Linked DNA regions of Homo sapiens: region 1 is linked to region 2. Evidence: fine-mapped expression QTL. Tissue or cell type: whole blood. Region 2 holds a variant in brackets; the other region holds the start of a gene. Each region is shown on its reference strand, or each on the opposite one.

What was found.
Region 1: it holds the start of POLDIP3, and the variant in region 2 is fine-mapped to the expression of POLDIP3 in whole blood (TOPMed, PIP 0.94).

The regions. Positions count from the first base shown.
Region 1 is chr22:42,613,720-42,616,633 of GRCh38, forward strand. It overlaps POLDIP3 (DNA polymerase delta interacting protein 3), which reads right to left and starts at 1,164. Exons shown (of 9, transcript NM_032311.5): 1 at 1,080-1,164. The coding sequence starts at 1,138. It overlaps RNU12 (RNA, U12 small nuclear), which reads left to right and starts at 1,525; the gene lies at 1,525-1,674. It overlaps LOC124905127 (a long non-coding RNA gene), which reads right to left and starts at 1,060. Exons shown (of 2, transcript XR_007068118.1): 1 at 1-1,060. RefSeq lists enhancers at 472-1,015, 1,016-1,559, 1,052-1,231, 1,312-1,371, 2,022-2,151 and silencers at 652-981, 1,522-1,581.
Region 2 is chr9:122,583,337-122,586,250 of GRCh38, forward strand. OR1L8 (olfactory receptor family 1 subfamily L member 8) reads right to left here and starts at 48. Exons shown (of 5, transcript NM_001004454.2): 1 at 1-48. The variant G/A (reference allele first, on the strand shown) is at 1,550.

The DNA of each region.
Region 1 (2,914 bases), not on the chromosome of region 2:
CACTGCACTCCAGCCTGGGCGACAGAGCAACACCCCGTCTCAAAAAAAACATAAAAATAAAAATAAACATCTGCTGAGAGAACAAATGTCTGAGAAAACAATATCTAACATATTTACATCCTGGCTATTTACAAAGACATTTAAACTTAATGTGTGTTGGGAAACTATTGGGCAAAGTTCTCACTTCTTCATACAGATGAACTCAGCTCACGAAGGCTTGAAATGACTAACAACATTTAAGGGTCTAGGGGAAGTTTGGGAGACATGACTGCAAATCACCTCCATGGCTCCTCAGCCAGCTCAAGCACTTTCTTCTCCCTAAGGAAATAACCAATCTCCTGCCCAACACACCAGTTTTTCAAGCCCATGTAGGAGGCCAACTCAGCCAGCAATTAAATCGCGCTCAGCCCGCCGCTCAGTTCTCCGTGGCCTCGGGCAAGTCACTCTACCACTTCCAGCCTCAAGTTCCCCATCAGTAAAAGGTGGGTAACATGAATAGCTAGCAGACAACAGGACTGTAAAAGATTAAATGAGGCATCGTGTATATGAAAGGGCTCAGAAAACTTAAAACGCCGCACAAAGAGAGGCGAGTGTTAACAGGGGCCGCGTGCAGGGGGATTTGGGCTTGCGCCTCAGCTTCGGCGGTCGGAGCAAGTCACTTCCCCGCTACTAAACTTCGGTTGTCTCAACTCTAAGATGGGTGGAGACCAGGCAGCGCCGAGATCACGGAGCGGGGCCCAAATGCCAGTCCACACAGGCAAGGAGGCTGCGCCGCCGAGACCCCAGGACCCCGGAACGCGGGGGCCCCAGGGGGCAGCCCCTCAGGTCCACGAGGCGGCACCCTGTCCCCGCCGCGGCCCCGTCGGCCTCCCAGGGCCGCCAGAGGGACTGCGCCTCGGCCAGTGGGCGGGCGGTCGGGGCCACGGCGGGGACGGCGGCAGCCGGCCAATGAGGAGCGCGGCTGTGGTCGGGGGCGGGCGCACCCGGTCCTCCGCGTCGCTCCCGGATCGCTACCTCCCCCGCCTCGAGCTCCACTAGGCCGAGGACCCTAAACCCCGAAGAAAGGAAAGGCCTCTCACCGTCCTTTCGCCGCCGCCCCGCGCTTCCTGATGAGTTCGTCCAGGGAGATGTCCGCCATCTTGCTCCGCCGAGCAAGCCGAAAGCAGTCGAGACCCCGCGAGCCCGCCCCTTCGGCCGCTAGGGAGCGACGAACTACTTCCGGCGTCCGCGGACCAACTCTCGCGACAGCCAGCTCAAAGCAGGCAAGAACCGGAAGGGGCGGGGACGTTCCCCGTGAGCCTTCGCGGTGCTGGCTGCTCATCTGCATACGGAAGTTCGGCACATTATGAATTATTTATTTTCCTCGAGGGAAAAAATTAAATGAAAAGCAACAAAATACATTATTAACAAGTGAGACAAACTTCAATGGAACTGGATCATGACCTCAACAGTCAACTACGATAGTCATCATACGCCTAATGAGAATAGAATTCATTACCTAGGAAATAAACTAAAAACGTCCTTATGCCTTAAACTTATGAGTAAGGAAAATAACGATTCGGGGTGACGCCCGAATCCTCACTGCTAATGTGAGACGAATTTTTGAGCGGGTAAAGGTCGCCCTCAAGGTGACCCGCCTACTTTGCGGGATGCCTGGGAGTTGCGATCTGCCCGACCTTATTCACGCCTAAAAAGTAGACTGACTGTGGGGTGGTCGTGTTTTTTGTTTCTTGTTGGTAGGTGGTGAATGCGTTTTTTTCGTTGTTTTCTCCGTTACTCAGGCTGCCAGTTGCTTGGCAGTCTTGTCGCTGGCTGTGGACGCTCTGCACTTCATCACCGTCCCCAGCTGCGCTTTGAGCCGGTCTAAGGTTGCCCACAGTATTGACGTTGGGACCCACGAAACTGGCAATTTCCATGTGTGCGGCCTTACCCAGTTCTCCCAAACTTCTGCGTATAACCGCTTCTCTGTGCTTCAGAAAGATAAGTCCGGCCCCGGCCTCACACAGCAGCTCAGTTCGTGACAGCGTTTAATATGTAAAATGGAGCAAATAATTTATAGGGCGTTGGGAGAGTTAAAGAGACTAATTCATTTACGTGTTAAATACAGGGAATGGCTTTTGCATTGATATAACCCCAGCCTCCAGCATGCGCCAGACCTGACGTAGGTGTTCGGCACATATTTTGTCCAATCACTCTAAAAATACACTCCATGCCCTTAGAACAGGTGGGGTTATGTCCTCTTGGCCATCAGGCATCAGGAGCTCCGTGCAGAAACTGGGTAAGAGGCCAGGAGCGGTGGCTCATGTCTGTAATCTCAGCACTTTGGGAGGCTGAGGCGGGTGGATCACCTGAAGTCAGGAGGTCGAGACCAGCCTGGCCAACACGGAGAAACCCCGTCTCTACTGAAAAAAAAAAAAAGAAAGAAAAAAATTAGCCGGGCGCGGTGGCACGGCCTGAAATCCCACCTACTCAGGAGCCTGAGGCAGAAGAATCGCTTGAACTCGGGAGGCGGAGGTTGCGGTGAGCCGAGATCGCGCCATTGCACTCCAGCCTAGGCGACAGAGCAAGACTCCGTTTCAAAAAAAAAAAAAAAAGAAAGAAAGAAAGAAACTGGGTAAGAGCGATCCTGCAATCCTCCTGCCTCAGCCTCCTGAGTAGCTGGGATTACAGGCCCGCCCCACCACGCCGGGCTCCTTCCCAGACCTCTTTTCCTCACCCATAGAACGGGACCATTAAGCCTTTCCTCCCTTCCAGGCGTGCCAGGAGGAACGCGCAAGAGGTGGGAGGAGGACAGGCTGGCCAGTGGGGTCAGCTGGGCAGTGTAGGGCAGATGCGGAGGACAATTTTATTTTTATTTTTGAGACGGTGTCTCGCTCTGTCGCCCAGGCTGGAGTGCAGTGGCACAATCTCAGCT
Region 2 (2,914 bases):
AGGAGACAGGATGACTGAATATAATATAATATCCTCGATGGGATCCTGGAACACAAAAAAAGGATATTAGATTTTAAAAGTAAGGAAATAGGCCGAGCGCACTGGCTCACGCCTGTAATCCCAGCATTTTGGGAGGCCGAGGCTGGTGGATCACCTGAGGTCAGGGGTTTGAGACCAGCCTAGCCATCATGGTGAAACCCCATCTCTACTAAAAATAAAAAAAAATTAGCCGGGCATGGTGGTGTGTGCTTGTAATCTCAGCTACTTGGGAGGCTGAGGCAGGAGAATCACTTGAACCTAGGAGGTGGAGATTGCAGTGAGCAGAGATCGTGCCACTGCACTCCAGCCTGGGTGACAAGAGCAAGACTCTGTGTTAAAAAAAGGAAAAAAGAAAAAGTAAGGAACTAGGAATAAAGTGTGAACATTAGTTAGTAAATAAATAAACATCAGGAAAGCCAGACAAAATGTACAAAGCAAGTGATTTTAGATATTGAAAAAGGTAGCATGGGGAGATAGAATTTTCAGAATTGAAGTGTAAGGACTTCAGAAAATCTGCTCCTAAAAAAAGCAACAACAAAAGCTAGCATGTAATCCAGCACTCTAGGAGGCTGAGGTGGGAGGCTCACTTGAGCCCTGTAGTTTGAGACCAACCTGGGCCACAAAGTGAGACCCCATATCTAGTTAAAAAAAAAATACCTGGCAAATGTAGCCAGAAAGATAGAAACTGTTTCTGAGGTAGTCCAGATGTTGGAATTACTAAACAAAGACTTTAAATCAGCTATGTAAATATATTTATAATAGGTAGTAAAATATATATTCATAAGTTATAGAAATCAATGTAATACACCATATTAAGAATAAAAATGTAAAAAACCATATGATCATCTTGATAGGTGAAGAAAAAGCATCAAACAAACTTCAACACCCTTTCATGATAAAACACTTAACAAGCCGGGAAAGCTTGAAAACTTTTTTAACCTGATAAAAGGCGTCTATGAAAACCTCACAGCTAACATCATACTCTAGGGTGAAATACTGAGTGCTTTCCTCCTAAGATCAAGAACTAGATAAAGATGACAGTACTTGCCACTTCTAGTCAACTGTGATGGTTAATAGTGAGTGTCAACGTGATTGGATTAAAGGATGCACAGTATTGCTCCTGGGTTTGTCTGTGAGGGTACTGATTCATGCTACAACATGGACAGACCTTGAAAACATGGGCTGGGCATGGTTGCTCATGCCTGTAATCCCAGTACTTTGGGAGGCGGGGGTGGGGGGTCGGATCTTTTGAGGCCAGGAGCTCGAGACCAGCCTGGCCAACATAGTGAAACGCCATCTCTACTAAAAATACAAAAATTAGCTGGGCGTGGAGATGCACACCTGCACTTCCAGCTCCTAGGGAAGCTGAGGCATGAGAATTGCTTGAATCCAGGAGGTGGAGGTTGCAGTGAGCCAAGATTGCACGAATGCACTACAGCCTTGGTGACAGAGCAAGACTGTCTAAAATATATATATATATATATATATGTGTGTGTGTGTGTGTGTGTGT[G/A]TATATGTGTGTATATATGTATATAATGTGTGTATATATATACAACATTATGCAAAATGAAAGAAGCTAGTATAAAAGGGCCACATTATATGATTCCATTTACATGACATGTCTATAAGAGGCAAATCCATAGGGAAAGAAAGTAGATGGGTTGTTCCTAGGGGTTGGGGACAAGGTAGAATAATGACTTACTGCTAATGGGTACTAGATTTTGGGTTATGAAAATGTTTCAAAATGAGATAGTTGGGAGAATTTTACGACTCTGAATTAAATTTACTGAATTTACTGAAATTACACTGAATTTTATGGTATAGGAATTATATGAACAAAGCTATTTTTAAAAGGCTATGCAAAACAGCTATCCTCAACAAGGTTGGAAACTTAGGGATGATCTTTCTTATTTTCAGTCCTACTATCTGGAGAGCATTTCCAGGCTTCACTGTAGAAAGGAAAAATCAAAAATATTCCAGCAAACTCTTTTAGTTGAGGAGACAATGTTTGAAGACCAGGGAAGCCTCAGCTTCCCTAGTAGCTGGGACTGCAGGTGTGCACCACCACGCCCAGCTAATTTTTGTATTTTTAGTGGAGACCGCGTTTCACCATGTTGGCCAGGGAAGCCAAGAAAGCTAGAATTCTTGGGACAATACCAGAAAAAAGGAAATTGTGCAGAGAGAAATATCAGATATTTTCTGGTGGGCTTTCTTGGGCCTTTGACTGGGTTTAGATCTGAACATGTGTGTGAATAAACTACCTGAGGCTGGAGAAAGTATCACTAGAAAAGGCTGGGTGGAACATTCATTTTGATGTACCTCTAGTAGTTTCCAGCACCACGGGGAAGGTAAATGGGAGTGACTGCTAATGGGTGCAGGGTTAGTTTTTATGGTAATGAAAATATTCTAATGCTAAACAGTTGTGATGGGTGCACAATTCTGGGACTATACTAAAAACAACTAAATGGAACACTTTTTAAAGTGTTATACTGTTATAAAGTAAATTTTATTGTATGTGAATTATATGTTAATAAATTTATTTTAAATTCATAAAAAATTTCCTAGGTTTTCTTCTAGGATTTTTATAGTTTCAGGTATTACATTTAGGTCTTTAATCCATCTTGAGTTAATTTTTGTACAAAGTGAGAGATAGGAGTCCAGTTTCAATCAATGGAACTCCCATGTCCTAGCAGTGAACAATTGAGAATTTAAATTTTTAACATGAAATTTATGACAGTATAAAAACTAAGAAATACATAAGGACAAATTTAACAATATGTGAACATATTATACATTAAAAACTATAAAGCATTAAAGAAGATTCAAATAAATGAAGAGATATACCTTGCATATAGATTAGATTACTCAATATCAT